Linked DNA regions of Homo sapiens. The protein of the gene in region 2 purifies or fractionates together with the protein of the main gene of each other region. This does not show direct contact. Each region holds a gene or a part of one and is shown on either strand. Other genes may lie near its edges.

What was found.
Region 1: the proteins of CDC37L1 (region 2) and TTC4 purify together in Homo sapiens (affinity purification with mass spectrometry; one study listed by BioGRID and IntAct). This does not show direct contact.
Region 3: the proteins of CDC37L1 (region 2) and GLMN purify together in Homo sapiens (affinity purification with mass spectrometry; one study listed by BioGRID and IntAct). This does not show direct contact.
Region 4: the proteins of CDC37L1 (region 2) and TOMM34 purify together in Homo sapiens (affinity purification with mass spectrometry; one study listed by BioGRID and IntAct). This does not show direct contact.

Annotation. Positions count from the first base shown.
Region 1 is NC_000001.11:54,714,727-54,718,660, reverse strand, and holds the start of TTC4 (tetratricopeptide repeat protein 4), read right to left. Parts: upstream 2,801-3,934; 5' UTR 2,753-2,800; coding exon 2,642-2,752; intron 2,062-2,641; coding exon 1,944-2,061; intron 1,170-1,943; coding exon 1,008-1,169; intron 1-1,007.
Region 2 is NC_000009.12:4,695,970-4,700,877, forward strand, and holds part of CDC37L1 (hsp90 co-chaperone Cdc37-like 1), read left to right. Parts: exon of another isoform or gene 1-1,126; coding exon 1,127-1,242; intron 1,243-1,787; coding exon 1,788-1,910; intron 1,911-4,908. UniProt on the Homo sapiens protein: Co-chaperone that binds to numerous proteins and promotes their interaction with Hsp70 and Hsp90.
Region 3 is NC_000001.11:92,271,488-92,274,987, forward strand, and holds part of GLMN (glomulin), read right to left. Parts: intron 166-3,500; coding exon 1-165.
Region 4 is NC_000020.11:44,953,898-44,957,397, forward strand, and holds part of TOMM34 (mitochondrial import receptor subunit TOM34), read right to left. Parts: intron 2,589-3,500; coding exon 2,489-2,588; intron 1,724-2,488; exon of another isoform or gene 1,324-1,723; coding exon 1,171-1,323; intron 1-1,170. UniProt on the Homo sapiens protein: Plays a role in the import of cytosolically synthesized preproteins into mitochondria. Binds the mature portion of precursor proteins. Interacts with cellular components, and possesses weak ATPase activity.

The sequences.
Region 1 (3,934 bases), on a different chromosome or scaffold from region 2:
AAATTTGAGAAACCCAGGGTAAATTTATTTTCTTGCAGGCTATCTCAGTGTCTTTAACATGTTAACATGTACTGTAAATCTCTAAGAAGCAGCATTTTCCAAACTTCCTCAATCTCCTGGGTGCGGTGGCTCACACCTGTAATTCCAATACTTTGGGAGGCTGAGGCGGATGGATCACTTGAGCCCAATTTCGAGACCAGCCCGGGCAACATGGCAAAACCCTGTCTCTACAAAAAAATGTAATAAAGTAAAAAATATGAATAAATAAATGAGTTAAAATTCCTCATCCAAGCAACTTTTTAGAAACAGGGTCTCACTTTGTCACCCAGGCTGGAGTGCAGTGGTGTGATTATGGCTCCCTGTAGCCTTGAGCGATCCTCGTGCCTCAGCCTCCCAAGTAGCTAGGACTACAGGCAGGCACCACCATGCCCAGCTAAATTTTTGGAGAGACAGGGTCTCACTATATTGCCCAGGTTGGTCTTGAACTCCTGGCCTCAGGCGATCCTCCTGTCTCAGCCTCCCAAAGTGCTTGGATTACAGGTATGAGCCACTGCACCCAACCAAAAAATATTTTTAACTCAAAGGTCCCACAGAACGCTTTGAGATATTCTCCCTTAGATTAAAATAGCTTATCTCACCTAAAGATCTCTACTGCCTTACTCCTGCTAGCATCCTTGAAAAGAGGATAAAAGGCCAGAAAAACACATTTTTTGAGAGAGTAGAAGCCCTTGGGCTCAAAAATCTCAGAACATACTGCCTCATACATCAAACACCTTACTTGAGTGACCAAGTCACTTTTTGGGTTGAGACAGTAAGAATTACACAATCCATCCTGTTTCTCTTTTCATCATGTCAACTTGGAAGACCAGAGTTCAATCAGAGTAAACTATCCTTAGTCTGGGTTTCTGGGATAACAGCCCCTCATCCTCTGATGTTCTCAAACCTCCACTAACCATCATAATGGCTTGTATCATAAGTTTATTCTTCAGAAAGCACTTATAAATTACCCAGATAGTACTGTGCTGCTGCCCGGTTGGTATAAAGGACAGCATTCAAATCAGGATCTGCACATTTCTTCTTTAAGCCTTCAGTGTATGAAATTACAGCTTTCTTGTAGTCTTTTTCTTTAAAGTAATCATTGCCCTCATCTTTATAGGTCTTGGCCTGTTCTGCAAAGAAGAGGAAAAATAATCACTATTGCTTACTTTTTAAAAGGCTCATTAAAAATAGATTCTAAATCATGTAATAATGTACTATATGACACACCAAAGCGAAGAAACCAATAGGGAAAGGAAACTCGATGTTATGATAAAAGTGGGTATCAACATGGACAAAGTCGCACAAATGTAATGCTAATTCCAAATATCTTACAAGGTAGATTACTAAGTGCTTTCCAAAAAAAAGAAGTATAAAGGAAAAAAGTACACTCATCCTAGCTGTTGAAGAAAAGAATTTTTTTTAATCACTGAAGAAATCAGTGAGGGGCAGGGGGATTGATTATACTTCTGCTTTTGCTTATGTTGTTTATTCTGTGGAGTGCAAATTCCCCTCCTCACCCTAGTAAAAGCCTACAAAATTACAAAGATTCAGCTCAAATTTCCTATCTATTGTGAATCCACTCCTGCTCCTTAAAGTGTTCCAACAGGACCCACTACAGCTGTAGTATACACCTACATGTTGACACTTATAGCATAAGTTTGTCTTGATTCTTTAAGACAAAAGGCTTCTCACTGAGCCTGACCTTGGAGGGTGGAACTGTGTCTTATTCACCCCTGTATCCCCAGTCCTTACCACTTAGTAGGTACAAAAAGAAGTATATTGGAATGAATAATGACAAGTTAGCTCAGGCTAACTACTTCTTGTTATCAATCAGAACGCTTCTAACCCACACTTAATTTCAGTTCAATGGAAACACAAAACAAATATTAGTCATGTTAAGATACCTTCTGGAGAACGCTCCTCATCAAAAATAATTGACTGGAGACAAGCCAAGTCAGGATTCTCCCTGGGATCAATTTCTGATGGCGCTCTCGACATAAATAGGGGGACCTTTTCAAATTCCTGTAAATGGTTAAGAATGAACTACATGAATAAGCTTTTCTACTGAGCAGATCCAATTCCATGACTCATTACCAAAGTTTTTTTACTCATCATGATTTGCAAATCATCACAGCTAGCTGTATCCATTCAGGCCTCCGCTTCCCTTCTGTAAAATGGGAGTGTGGTGTAATGGTCTCTAATGATTGTTTTAGTTCTCACATTCTACAAGAGCGGCAGGAATTACCATTAATTGAGCGCCCTTATGTTCTTGGCACTTTACCAACTGTCTCATTTCATCTTTGCTATTGGTGATATAGTTCGCGCAGTTTTACAGATGAGGAAACGGACTCTGAGAAGTTAAGTAACTGACTCATATCAGAGCCAGTTAAGTGGTGGAGTCACAGGCCTGACTCCAAAACCTAGGTTCTCAGCTTAAGAAGCGACTCAAAACCTCGAGGCCGATTTTCAATACTCAACTAGAAACCAGCGATCGGCTGGCAGCGCCAGGGATCTGGGATTGAAGGAGGTGCCCCAGAGCCCGGGTGCCCCACGAGTCCGGACGACGCCCCTACACACGTGGGGAGACCCCAGGACCGCCCACCTTCTCCCACTGGTCCTCATGAAAGCCGCCACGGTAAGGCTGGCTCTGGAACTTTTCCAGGAACGAGTCCATGACGTCGTCTGAGGTGGGATCCTGCCCAGGTTGTTCCATAGCTGATGCCCTGCCTTCCAGCCCGGGTCCCAGCGCCGTGAAGCGAGCGGCTCCTTCCGGCGGCGCGGGTTCCCTTCCCTCAATCCTCCCGGCAGCGCAGGTCCCCGCGCCTTGGGTTCCGCCGGCCTGGGGGCGTGGCCGGGCGTGGCCAATACGCTCCTCCCCCGGCCCGCCCTCCTCGGCAGTGCCTGGCCTCGCCCGGCCTTCGAATGCTTTTGGGGTGGTGCGTGAACCCGAATCCCCAAAGCCCCCATCTCACTTCATTCATTTGTTCGTCAGTCAGTCAACACATACTTACTTAGCTCTTTCTGCGCTTCCGGCCTGTTCTAGTGGCTGGCTATATAGCGGTGGGCAGAGCAGATGAAATCTCTGCCCTCTAGGAGTTGCTAAGGCAGTGGGGAGGAAACGACAATAGTTGAGATGTAAGAGTTTGTCAGGGGTAGCAAGAGCTATTGGGGAAAAGTTTTAAACAGGATGGGTAGACATTCTGCCAGAGGCCTGGGAGTGACTAGGAGGGGTCTGGGAAAGGCATTCCCATGGAAGGAACAGGGAACAGTCCGGAAGCCTGATGCGGGAGAGTCTTCTGTGCTTGGGGAACAGCAAGGAGGCCAGTGGGGCTGAAGCAGAGTGAGGAAGGGGGCAAGGAGATGATGAGGTGGGAGGACAAAAGGGCTGTGACTATGAGGATTTGGCTATTTCCTCAGTGGTATGGGACCTTTTGGAGAGTTTCGAGGAAAGGAGAGACTGATCAGACCTCTGTCTCTGAGCTTAGCCACCCCTAACTCCCACAGTTCAGATGGAAAAGGGTCTTCGGTCCAGGTGCTGCAGGCCTGGTTAGGCAGCCGCTGTGGCTTCCTGCAGCCTCTCTACCGGCCAGCAAATGGCTGCAGGTCCCTGCACCGGGGCTACAGCCTTGGGGAGCTCCTAGCCTGGTCTGGAATGAAAAGCAGACAGGAAGCACACCAATCTAAACTGGCATTGGGTCACAGGTCTGCTCAGTGAAGGCTCAGAGGGGTGGGATTCAAGGTGATGCAGAGCTGAGATCAGAGCTGAGGAAGGTCTCTGCAGATGGATAGAGGACTCAGCGTTTTAGGCAGTGGGAGCTCATATGTGGAGAGAGGCATGGAGGTGTGCACAGGCCCGCCATGCTGGGTACTGCAAGTGTTAAGAGGTGTGTCCAGG
Region 2 (4,908 bases):
GAGACAGGGTTTTACCATGTTGGCCAGGCTGGTCTCGAACTCCTGACCTCAGGTGATCCGCCTGCCTTGGCCTCCCAAAGTGCTGGGATTGCAGGCATGAGCCACCGTGGCTGGCCCCACCCCCTTTTTTTAAGTGAGGAGAAAATGAATCATTTATTTTTGATTGACTCACATTGTTGCTGTGTATTCTCAGTAGGACATTTGTCTTCAGTTTTGTTCTTTCTTGTGTACTGATGTGGAATTAAATATATAGGAGTTCATTTTGCACCTACAGGAAAAGTTTACTGCTAAACTCTTGAGTCAGCTCTACAAAATTTCCATGAATATCCAGACTTCTTTGCATGAGTCTAAGGAATCTAAACCTAACATTGCTATATTGAATTTATTCAGTTAGCCAGGCACAGTGGCTCATGCCCATAATCCCAGCACTTTGGGAGGCCTAGCCAGGAGAATATCTTGAGGCCAGGAGTTCAAGACCAGCCTGAGCAACATAATAAGCCTCTCATCTTTATGGAGAAAAAAAAGAAGAGAAAAAAAGAAAAGAAAAAAATCTATTCAGTTATGACTGACTGGACAACATTAAAAAGTCAACACTTTGCTGGTTCCGTGATTTCTTGGTGGTATTGACTTTGACCAAATTTCCTGCTAATTTAGATAAAGGTGTAGATATAACTTAAATAGTATTTGGATTTCTTTGACACCTTGAAACAAAATGACAACCATTTTCAAATATGCTTAACTAATTTTTAAAAGACTTTGTTTATAACAGACATCATGAGTAAATGGCTTACATAACTAACTCTCAATTTGCCCAAGACTGCGGGCATTCATGGATGTAGGACTTTTTAATATTGAACTGGCCACTCTGGCCTGATTAATTATCTGAAATAAAACTTCCTGTGAATTTTAGGAGCTATTTCCAGTCTACTGAGTATTGCTTTAAAGAGTACTGTCCCTCACTTGCTCTTTTACCATAATCTGTTGCTCTGGTAATATGAATTGTCTTTAAAGAGAATCATTTAAAAATACCATTGAGAGATTAATGAATTAAGAATGGTTGGTATTTCTTCCCTTATGGGAAGAAAGAAAATATTTGACACTTATGGTTCAATTCTTTTTTTTACAGGTATGTTGAGTCGATGGGATGATAGCCAGAGATTTTTGTCTGACCATCCATACCTTGTATGTGAAGAAACTGCTAAATATCTTATTTTATGGTGTTTTCACCTGGAAGCTGAGAAGGTATTATTATGTGAACCTTGAGTTTCTGGGAACCTTAGTGGAAATCTGATTTCATACTTTATTGATGTTTTGTTTTGTTTTCTACATTAAGTCCTTTAAAAGAAAGCAGGAAGGTCATTAGATGGAATTACCATTTTTTGCTTCCAGATCTACTTGAGTTTAATGTGGGATTTTGTTGTTGTTGTTGTTTCAGTTAGCATACAGAAACTTTTCCACTATGCTTTCTCTGCCACTCCACCTCCATCTCTCTTGTTTTCATATTACTATAATCCTTTTCAAACTAATTTGAAAGTCGTATTTTAAAAATCCAGACGGTAATCATGGTATTAAATCAAGTTCAGAGCATGGTCTTCCTTTAGTTATTCTGGTCCACATACAAATAATAAAAAAAAAACTAAGATATACTCTTTATATGTTTGTAAAGTATTTGACTTATAACTTAAGAGAGTAAAATCAAAAGTATTTTAAAAATTCAAAATTTGAATCAGTATGCCAATTAAATATATTTATATATTTGTTTCTTATATCATTTAAATCTTTTTCAGAAAGGGGCTTTAATGGAACAAATAGCACATCAAGCTGTTGTAATGCAGTTTATTATGGAAATGGCCAAAAACTGTAATGTGGATCCAAGAGGGTGTTTTCGTTTATTTTTCCAGAAAGCCAAAGTAAGTAGTTATTTGATATTGATAAATGGGAAGATTTGGTCCCAGCTGAGACCTCTTTGTTCTGTTCATATCAATAGAAGGCATCCAAGCAGGATGCCACAGGCTAAATTCTGTAGATTTTCTTGTGAAAAGAAAATTTATATTGCTAATTTCTTGCTAATTTAAACTTAAAAGAGCTATATAAGAGGCTGTACTACAGCATGTATATGAAATTGAGACCCATTTAAATGAATGTGTGTATTCAGGAAACTTACGTTCCATCATTAATTCATTCAGTAAATACTGAGTGCCTAATGCAAAGCACAGCTGTTTCAGATGCTCAGGATGCATTATTGAGCAAAATAGATACAGGATTCTTCATGTGTAGAACTCAGCAGTTTAATGAGAAATCAGACTTTTATAAAGAAAAAATAGGAAGCAACCTAAAAATTCAGCAATTAAGGGAATAGTTAAAAATACCCATGGTACATAGAATATCATGCACCCTTTAAAATTATATTTATGGAACTTTTGTAATGAGCTGAAGAAATGCTTACGCTATGAATTCACAGGAAGCAGTACATACTAGATGATGTTGGCTATGTTGAAGAAAAATAGATGTCTAGAAAGATTAAGTACCTTTCACACTCACAAGATTTGCAGTAATTTAAAAGCTGCCCAAGAAGTAGGGCAATAAGAATTTGCGTTCACTGCTAGTGGAAGTATAAATTGGAACAACCACTTTAAAAAATTTCCTAGTAAAGTTGAACAAGTGCCTGCCTTAACACCCAGAAATTCTCCTAGGTGTATGCATCCTAGAGAGTAGATTCTCAAGGTGGGGTCCAGGAACCCGGAGGGGCTTCAAGACCTTTTCAGGAGGTTCTCTGTCGAAACTATTTTCATAATAATACCAAGATGTTATTTTTAATTTTCATTTTCATTCCTCAGTAGTGTACAATAGAGATTAATGCGGAAGTACAAATATGAGAATCTAGCCATCTTCTGTAAAGTCAGACATTAGATTTAGAAAAATTAAAGGAAAAAGCAGCTCTCTTCTCACTAAATTTTTTTGTTTTGGAAAACTTTTTTTTTAAATAAAAATGTTATTAATGGTAGTGTAATGAGTTTGTCATTGTTATTTTTAGTTAATGTTTTAAAAATTCCTCAGTTTTCATTTCTAACAGTAAATACTGACAGATACAACTCACATAAACAGAAGCTCTTTAGGGTCCTCAATAATTTTGAAGACTGTAAAGAGAACTGCTGCGCTAGAGAAACTCTTACACATATGTACTAGATTGCCGTAATGTTCATAGTAGATTGTAATAGCTAAAAGCCTGGAAACAATAAATAAATTGTGGTGTAGGTTGAGTATTCCTAATCCAAAATCCAAAACGCTCCAAAATCCAAAACTGTTTGAGCATCGACATGACACTCAAGGGAAATACTCACAGATTTTGTGTTTTCAATTTAGAGATCTTCACTGGTAAGTATAATGCAAATATTCCCAGATCTGAAAAAACTGACAATCTGAAAAACTTCTGGTGCCAAGCATTTCAGATATTCAACCTGTATATTCATTCTGTAAAATACTAGCCAACATCAGCATGGATGGAAAAACAAGAGAGTGAATCAAACAAACCACAGAGTGATGTATCTGTTTAGATAGATGCTAAATGGATATATCTAGTATCAATGTTCGTATTTTGTATTTTTTTATAAAGTATTTTTTTAGTGACAGGCAGAACTAAATAATATATTGTTGAAGGATACATATATAAGCAGTAAAACTAAAAAGCAAAGGAATAATTAAGAAGACAAAAGTTACAATAATGATAACCTCAGGGAGGGAGGGGGAATGCTCTTGGGAACTGGTTTCTAGGATCCTAGTAATGATCCATATCCTAATTTCTATGGGTAAATAGTGGGGGTTTTGCTGAATAAACTGTGCGCATATCTTTTACATGCTCTTCTGCACATAGGATATATTTGAACATATACAATTAGAAGTTAAAAGGAAGTATACCAAAAGTTTAACTTTGGTTATACTTGTGTGGTGAAATTATAAATAATTTCCGTTTTCTTTTTCATGTACTACAATGAACATTTCCTATTATAAACATAAAATTATATTTTTATATTAAAAAAAAACTCTCAATGTGGCAGTAGTCCTAACTTAAATACCCTAAACTCTTCTGAAATGCAACCAAAATATGAAATTTTCCTGAAACAGTTGAACTTTAATAGCAAATGCTTGACTTGATATTTTAGCTAGGCTGCTTCTGGTGACTAGTCTAAACTTTTGTTTGTTTTTAGAGATAAGGTCCTGCTCTGTCACTCAGGCTAGAGTGCAGTGGTGCAATCATTGCTCACTGCAGCCTTGAACTTCTGGGCTCAAGCAATCCTCCTGCCTCAGATTCCCAGGTAGCTGGGACTATAGGCACATGCCACCATCCCCAGCTAATTTTTTGTAGAGACACGGTCTCACTGTGTTGCCCAGGCTGGTCTCGAACTTCTGGGCTCAAGCTGTCCTCCTGCCTTAACCTTCCAAAATACTGGGATTACAGACATGAGCCACCACACCCGGTCTCTTCTAAATTTTTACTTGACACTTAAGAGTAGTAAAAAACATACTTTCCTTTTTATCTTACATTAATGGATGTGTTTAAACTGGTGTTTAATAAAATAATGGAATGTGGCCAAATCATATATATTGTTTGACATTTACTTTACCAAAGTAAAACGGAAAGGCACTGGTCTTCAATCTTAACATTGTATGCTTAATAATACTTTTTTTTAAATTATGAAATAATCACTTTCATGGTATGCTTACTTTGTTCCAGGGACTATTCTAAGCACTTTACATGTATTAACTCATTAAATTCATATAACATTTTATGAGGATTACTGTTGCTATCTTATGGGTGAAGAAATTGGCATAAAGAAATTAAGTAAGTGGCCCACAAATTACTTAATAATACAAAATCTGTCATCACTCTATATCTAAATCCCTAAACCT
Region 3 (3,500 bases), on a different chromosome or scaffold from region 2:
AATATGGATGCCCTGTACAAATACTAGATATGCCAGAGAAGCCATTGAGTCTGCTAACTGTTTATTTTCTTCTTCTTCAAATTCAAGGTAATTCCAAGTTCTCTTTTTCCTTCCATGATTAAAAATCATTTTGGGGAAAGGGTGTCCAATTGCTGATAAAAAACCCTATGAAATGGATAAAAAAGGAAACCATAGCACACAGACTCTAAAATGCCCCCCACCCCGTGTATTCAAACTCCACATTCTCACCAAGGGGAGGTGTAATCACTCCCTTTGAGCGTGAGTGGGACCTATGAGACTTGCTTTCAACCAACAGAATGCGCCAAGATGTCACTCCCATGATTAGATTATATGACAAAAGTGAAGGGGTTTTTGCAGATGTAATTAAGGTCCCAAATCAGTAGATTTTGAGTTGGGTGGCCCTAACTTAATCAGGTATATTTTTAAAGGGGGTCCAGGCCTTCCCTGAGAGTCAGAAACTTTGCTCTCTGACTCTCTCCCTTGCTGGCTTTAAAGAACTAAGCTGCCATGTTATGAGAAGGCTCATGGACAGAACTACATGGCAAGGGACCAACTACAGGCAGCTCCTAGAAGCTAAATGTGGTCCCTGGCTGACAGCCAGCAAGAAAATGGGGACCTCAGTCCTACAGCTTAGAGGAAATGAATTCTGCCAGCGGAGGAAACCTGAAAGTGGATCTTTCCCCAGTTAAGCTTCTGATAAGACTACAGACCCAGTCAACAACTGGCCTGTAGCCCAATGAGACCCTGAGCAGAGGACCCAATTAAGCTGTGGCTGGACTCCTGATCCATAGAAACTGTGAGATAACAAAGGTATGCTGTTTTAAACTGCTAAGTTTGCAGGAATTTGTTATACAGCAATGAAAAACTAATACAGAAGCCAACAGCAAAATCGTATTTTACATAGCATTTTATACATCAGAAGTATTCTAAATTAATTCAGAATCATAGTTTAAAAAGTTTAAAATGATGAATTTTATGTATATTTCACCACAATTTTTTTTAAAAAAGTGCTTCAGGGATATTTGAGAGCAATCTGAAACGTGAGACATACAAATATATGAAGCAAGGGTAAAGCAACTAAGATGAAGAATACTCTAGGAACAATGCTCCACTAACATTGTGCCTGTAGAGAGTGGGATGCAGGAACGCTGGGCAGGGCAGCTGGGCCTGAGGAAACACTGTTGATCTCTCAGTCATCAGGGTTCTCATGTGAGACGAGAAAGAGAAGCATCCTTGCATGAGTGGGTAGGACCACAGGGCTAAATAAAGCTTTCCGCTCAGGAAACAAGATCACTCCTATGCCTCTTATACTGGTACTAATTCTAGCGTACCAGAAAGCACCTACCTTCAGAATCCACTGACATTGATTTTGAGTTTTGGCTCTACCATTTACTACTTGTGTGACACTGGATGAGCCATAAAATGACATAATACCTATGTCAAATATTTATCGAGCAGCTCCACAAAAAAAGCGTAAGAAAGTTAAAGTCACAACAAACTACAAGAGTTAAAAGGGAATGAATGACAAAAACAGCTAAAGCAGAATGAATAACTTCCACACAAGTCACTCTTTTATTCAATAAACACTTAAGTGCAAGGTGCTGGGCCTGACTTTGTGGGGAATTATAAAGCCAAGTATAAGTCTTTTCCAGCCTTCAGGGACTTAAAATCTGCTGATCCCAGATGGTTCCATTAGTCATTTCAGAATACAAAAAGGAACCATGGAAAATCATCCTCAGTCACAAGAGACTGCTATTCAGCGACCAGATGCTAAATATATACTGCTGCAGTGATTTTCAAAGCCATGCATTCTGGTTATAGCTACAAGACAAAAAGTTTATTGCACTCTGATTCCAAATGTCCTTAATCATGAAGCTCCATTTCTTTATTCAGCCAATGCTACATGTGTTTTTTCCAGAGTAAGGTAGCCCTGTTTTTTTTTTTTTTTTTTTTGGCGACAAGGTCTCACTCTGTCACTCAGGCTGGAGTGTAGTGGCATGATCATGGCTTACTGCAGCCTTGACTTCCCCAGGCTCAAGCAATCCACCCTCCTCAGTCTCCTGAGTAGCTAGGACTACTGGTACATGCCACCATGCCCGCTATTTTTTTTTTATTTTTTTTATTTTTTATAGAGATGGGGTTTCGCCATGCAGCCCAGGCTGGTCTTGAACTCCTGGGCTTAAGTGATCTGCCCACCTTGGCCTCCCAAAGGCCTGGGCCTACAAGCGGGAGCTACCGTGCCCAGCCTAAGATACCCTTTTTAAAACATTATTATATGCAACTAGATTCTACAGTGCTGCTCTGGATATCTGAGATCCAATCTGTTCCCAAATCTGGGCCTTCACTATCTATCCACACACCATCCAGCAGTCTTGCTCAGATCCAGGCTGTACCTGGCACCATACAATTTCTCAATATTCATGGCAGCTTTTGTCCTTTCAGAAATGTTCCTGTACTACAGCCTTTGGGACATTCTAGTAGTTCTGTACCAAAATAACTTGTACCAAAGTGAGGATGGCTGAGGCCTGTGAATCCCAACCACACCACACTTACCAGTACTTCTCCAGCACAGAACAGAAGACATCTCCTCATTTCATCTCCAAGCTGGTCTCACCTCTACTTCTAGACTGCTACGTGCATCCTTACTGCTGGCTCTTTCTACTTGCAATGTTCCTTCTACTGAGATTTTAGAACCACTCACCTACATCCTCAGTCTCTTCATAGGATGCTTGTTCTGCCTCACTGCTTTAACTAAACCTGTCTGATTTCTGGTGGGAGATGCTCATTCTCACACCTTTTATACCACAGGGCCTGGAATGCAGCTGTTGGGTAGAGGAGTACAGGTAGGGGCTTAGCACAGTATTGTAGTATTGGCTTTTTCTGTACTTTTCAACAAAAGCACATTTTCCTTTGATGCAGATAACATACTGTCCTTTTCTCTGTCATATGCTGACTTCCTGGTAATTTCCTGACATTCACTGAAGACTCTGGCACCTTCTCATAATCTTTTTCTCTACCCAATTCCTGCTATGATCCTGGGAAAATTCAATGTTCATGGAGATAACCCCTATAACAGGCTAGTCTCATGGTCCTTTATTATTATTAATTTATTTTTCAATCAAGCAACAAGTCATTGCATCCACTCTCATGGTTCTCAATTTCTAAATTCTAGTGACTTTTAGTTCTAATCCATTTCAGTACCTAATCCCATGCTGGATCTCTGAACATCTGGAACTATTCTGTATTTGATACTTTAAACTCCAATATCCCATTTTCTGACCAAAATCTGTCATCCTGTCTCTCCTAGCAATCTGCTTTTCTACTTCTGACTTCTCCAGTCCTGTGATTCCTACATTTTGACCTACCTAGGCATTCCCTCCTAACCCCCCTTCTTTCCCTATCCAACCTGAATCATGGATTATTGACCAGCTGAACTATCTGCACCCTGTATTTCCTTCAGCAGTATCTACCCAGTAAAA
Region 4 (3,500 bases), on a different chromosome or scaffold from region 2:
TAAAGACCTTTTCATAAAGGCTGACTTGCTCAGGATTAAGTCCAAGCCCTGAACCCTGGGTCTTGTGTGACTTGGCCTCACCAACCTGTCCCAAGCTGAGCTCCTGCCTGCAGCACCATGTGAAACCGACTTCTTACAATTCCTGTGATCTGTCACACTTGCTCACCTTTGCACACGCTGCTCTGTCTTCTGGCTAACCCCCTACCCCATATCTCTCATTCTTAGCTCACCTCCTCTGAAAAGCTCTCTCTGGCCTCCCCCTCTCCCTCTCAGCTAGCTAGGTGGCTCCTTTCTGGCCTCAGAGCCCCCTGTGCTGCCTCCTACCATGGCGCTTATCATGTTGTATTGTGCTTGCCTATTACTGACTGGTGTCTTCCTTGAGACCGGGACCTCTATGACGGCAGGAAGAGGTATGTCTCAGTCATCAGCCCAGGTCCTAGAGCAAAGTCTGTCACATAATTGGTAGATTTTGTGGAATCAGATAAGTTAAAAAGGAGGCAAAGAGAAAACAAAGAATGCTGGCAGACAAGTCAAGCCAGAAATAAAGCACTAAATACATACCATGAAGTCCCTGTTAAGGGTTTGCTATTAGTGCAGTGTTTGGCTTTCTAGCCGCACACGCAGAGGGGAAACATGATCAGTTATACAAATGACAATATCCATGAGATAAAAGCCAATAACTGCTCAGAGACCAGAAAGGAATTGCACCTGGGGAACCTCTTGGATTGGTCACAGTGCAATATACTGAACCATGTCCACAAACCATATCCTTTTAGGCTTGTCATAGCTGCTTGGGCTTGTGTCTTATTCTTCTAATTAGCGTTAGCGCTTTGAAGGTAAGTGGGGTCTGTATCTCTTTCTCATTTTGGTATCCCCCACTGAACCGGGCACAACACCTTAAACAGTGTACAATAAATATTACTGTGTACATAGATACTGTGAGGCACATGTAGGCAAATATCAATCAATCAATCTTAGTAATTGACTCCCTGAAAACCTGCTAAATAAAAAAGCAGATTTTCCTTTCTCAGCTTCCCCTACATGCCCATCGGGAGTTTTTTAAGTGTAGCCAAAGGGATCCCCTCAGAAGACAGACAAGGCAATGGCCCGCAGCCAATCAAGAAGGACAGGGAGTTGCCGTGGAGACCACCTGCTGGGAATGGAGCTCACCTGTTGATGCCTTCTACGGCTGACGTCACATTATCATCAATCTGCAGCACAGTCTTATAGTCAACATAGGCCATAGGGTACTTCTCCAGAGCCTCATAAGCAGATGCTCGCCGCAGCAGGGGCTTAATGCTGAAGGGAACCAAGGCCAGTGCTCTAGAATAGGAGGCAAAAATGTCAACTGGCTGGCTGCTGAGCCACCAGGGTTTCCCTACAGTTTCTTCCAGGCAGGGTTATCTGGAGCACTCAGCGTACAGGAAGTAATTTCTGGCCGAGAGACATGGCTAAAAACGCCAAACCTCAGAACAGGGATTTTTCAACGTAGACTGAAGTGAGGAGGAGAAAGAAGGCAGAGAAACATGAATTTTGTTAAATGTGTGTGCACATGCATCAATTTTCATAGTTTCAGTTCCCCCAAAATCAAGAACAAAAGCCTCATGGCTTTCATGCTACTATGTTTTTTTACAGTTGTGGTCTAGTGGGAATAACAAACAAGCTTTGGAGTCAGATGGGGTGGTGTCTGAATTCCACCTCTGCTGCTAACTATGTGACCCAGGTAAATCACTTTACTGCCCCAACCCTCAGCAACCAAGTTCTGGCCTGGGACACATGGTAACCGTACCCCACAGATTGGTTGTGAACACTCAAAGAGGGAAATCTGGCACAAGGCATGGCACAAATTAATTCAGCACAGGCTCTGTGAGTATGCTCACACCCCTCCTGCTCTCCTGGCTATCACCAGGGCAGGAATCTAAAGCAATGTCAGAGGACATCAGATCTGAGAACACATTTCAGGTAAATGTGAGAGTTTAATGATGATAAAAGAATATTAGACTGGCTTGAAGAAAAAGAGATATGAAACATTGTTCAGTGTCCTCTAAAACTGGTCATTCATGAATACCATTTTTTTCCTTTCTCCTTCTGAGACAATCTATTAACCTCTATTCCTCCTTCTTTCCTTCGCTCCCTTCCCCTCACATACTCCCATCCCAGAAAAGCACCTGGGCAAGCCAGTTACTGGTCTGCCACTCCACCTTATTCCCAGGTTTCAAATTGCACAAAGACTTTACGGCCTGCTTCTAACTGCCCATCCCACTCCTTTTTCGGCAGCAGAGCCAAGACTCCAAAGATGCAAGTCACGGGCCATAAGGACCAAATAAAGACTCCCATTCTCAGTGACCTGGTGAAACTCAGTGACACTTTCTTAATATCTGTCCCAGATGTAATTGATGGGATCCTTCCAAAGAAGAAACAAGCCAGATTAACCCAGCCTCCTCTTCTGAGACCCTCAGGCATCCCAAAATTACCCTTGGCCACTTACGAAGTGCAATCTTTGATGCAGTCTCTGCAGTTTCCATCCTTCAAGTGACATGCTGCTCGGTTGGAGTAGAGAACACTTTCTTCTTCTGGGTCTGAAGAACCTGCCCAGATAGAGTGGGGAAGATGATCAGTTTGGAAAATGGGTGCCTCAGGGCATTAGGATACATTTCAAACTCAGAGCTCTTTGGGCCTTGTGTTAAGGCAGTAGAGATAACTATAACCTGTTCAGGCTTGTTGGTCTGCTGGGCTGGCGTGTTTGTCATTCTTATGTGACAGAAGGACACTGCGCTTTTTGCCATTCAAAGGGAACCAAGTATTTCCTCATTCACTCATTCCAGCACTGAACTTGATAACAGACAAAAGATAAACAAGAAATAGCTAGCTTCTGCCTCAAAGAAATCCATGCTGTAACTACTTGGGTTTGGGTGGATAAATGGATGGATAGGTGTGTATTTTATTACAAAAAGCATTTAAATCCAAGAAAGAAAGAAAAAAAAAAAAAGAAAAGAAAGGGAGGGAGGGAGGGAACAAGATGATAAACGTATGATAAATGGATTGACCAAAAGTTGTAGGGGCACAAAACACCCATGAAAGACATGAGACTAGTTTTACCTGGTCAAGCCAGGGAGGACTTTGTCAGGGAAATGATAATTGAGCTGGGTGTGATGGGAGTACAGAGAACTTAATCAGGAAAAAGTCTTAAGCTACCCCATGGGGAGAATTATTAGACATTCTTCTAAGGCAGTCCTTACCCTCAGGAATCGCAGAGGCTCAAGTCCTTCACTGTGGCCACCATGATCTTTATTTACGTATTTTTTTTTGAGACAGAGTCCTGCTCTGTTGCCCAGCCTGGAGTGCAGTGGAGCGATCTCCGCTCACTGCAACTCCACCTCCTGGGTTCAAGCAATTCTCCTGCCTCAGCCTCAGCCTCCTGAGTAGCTGGGATTACAGGCACTCGCCACCACGCCTGGTAGAGACAGGGTTTCACTATGTTGGCCAAGCTGGTCTTGAAC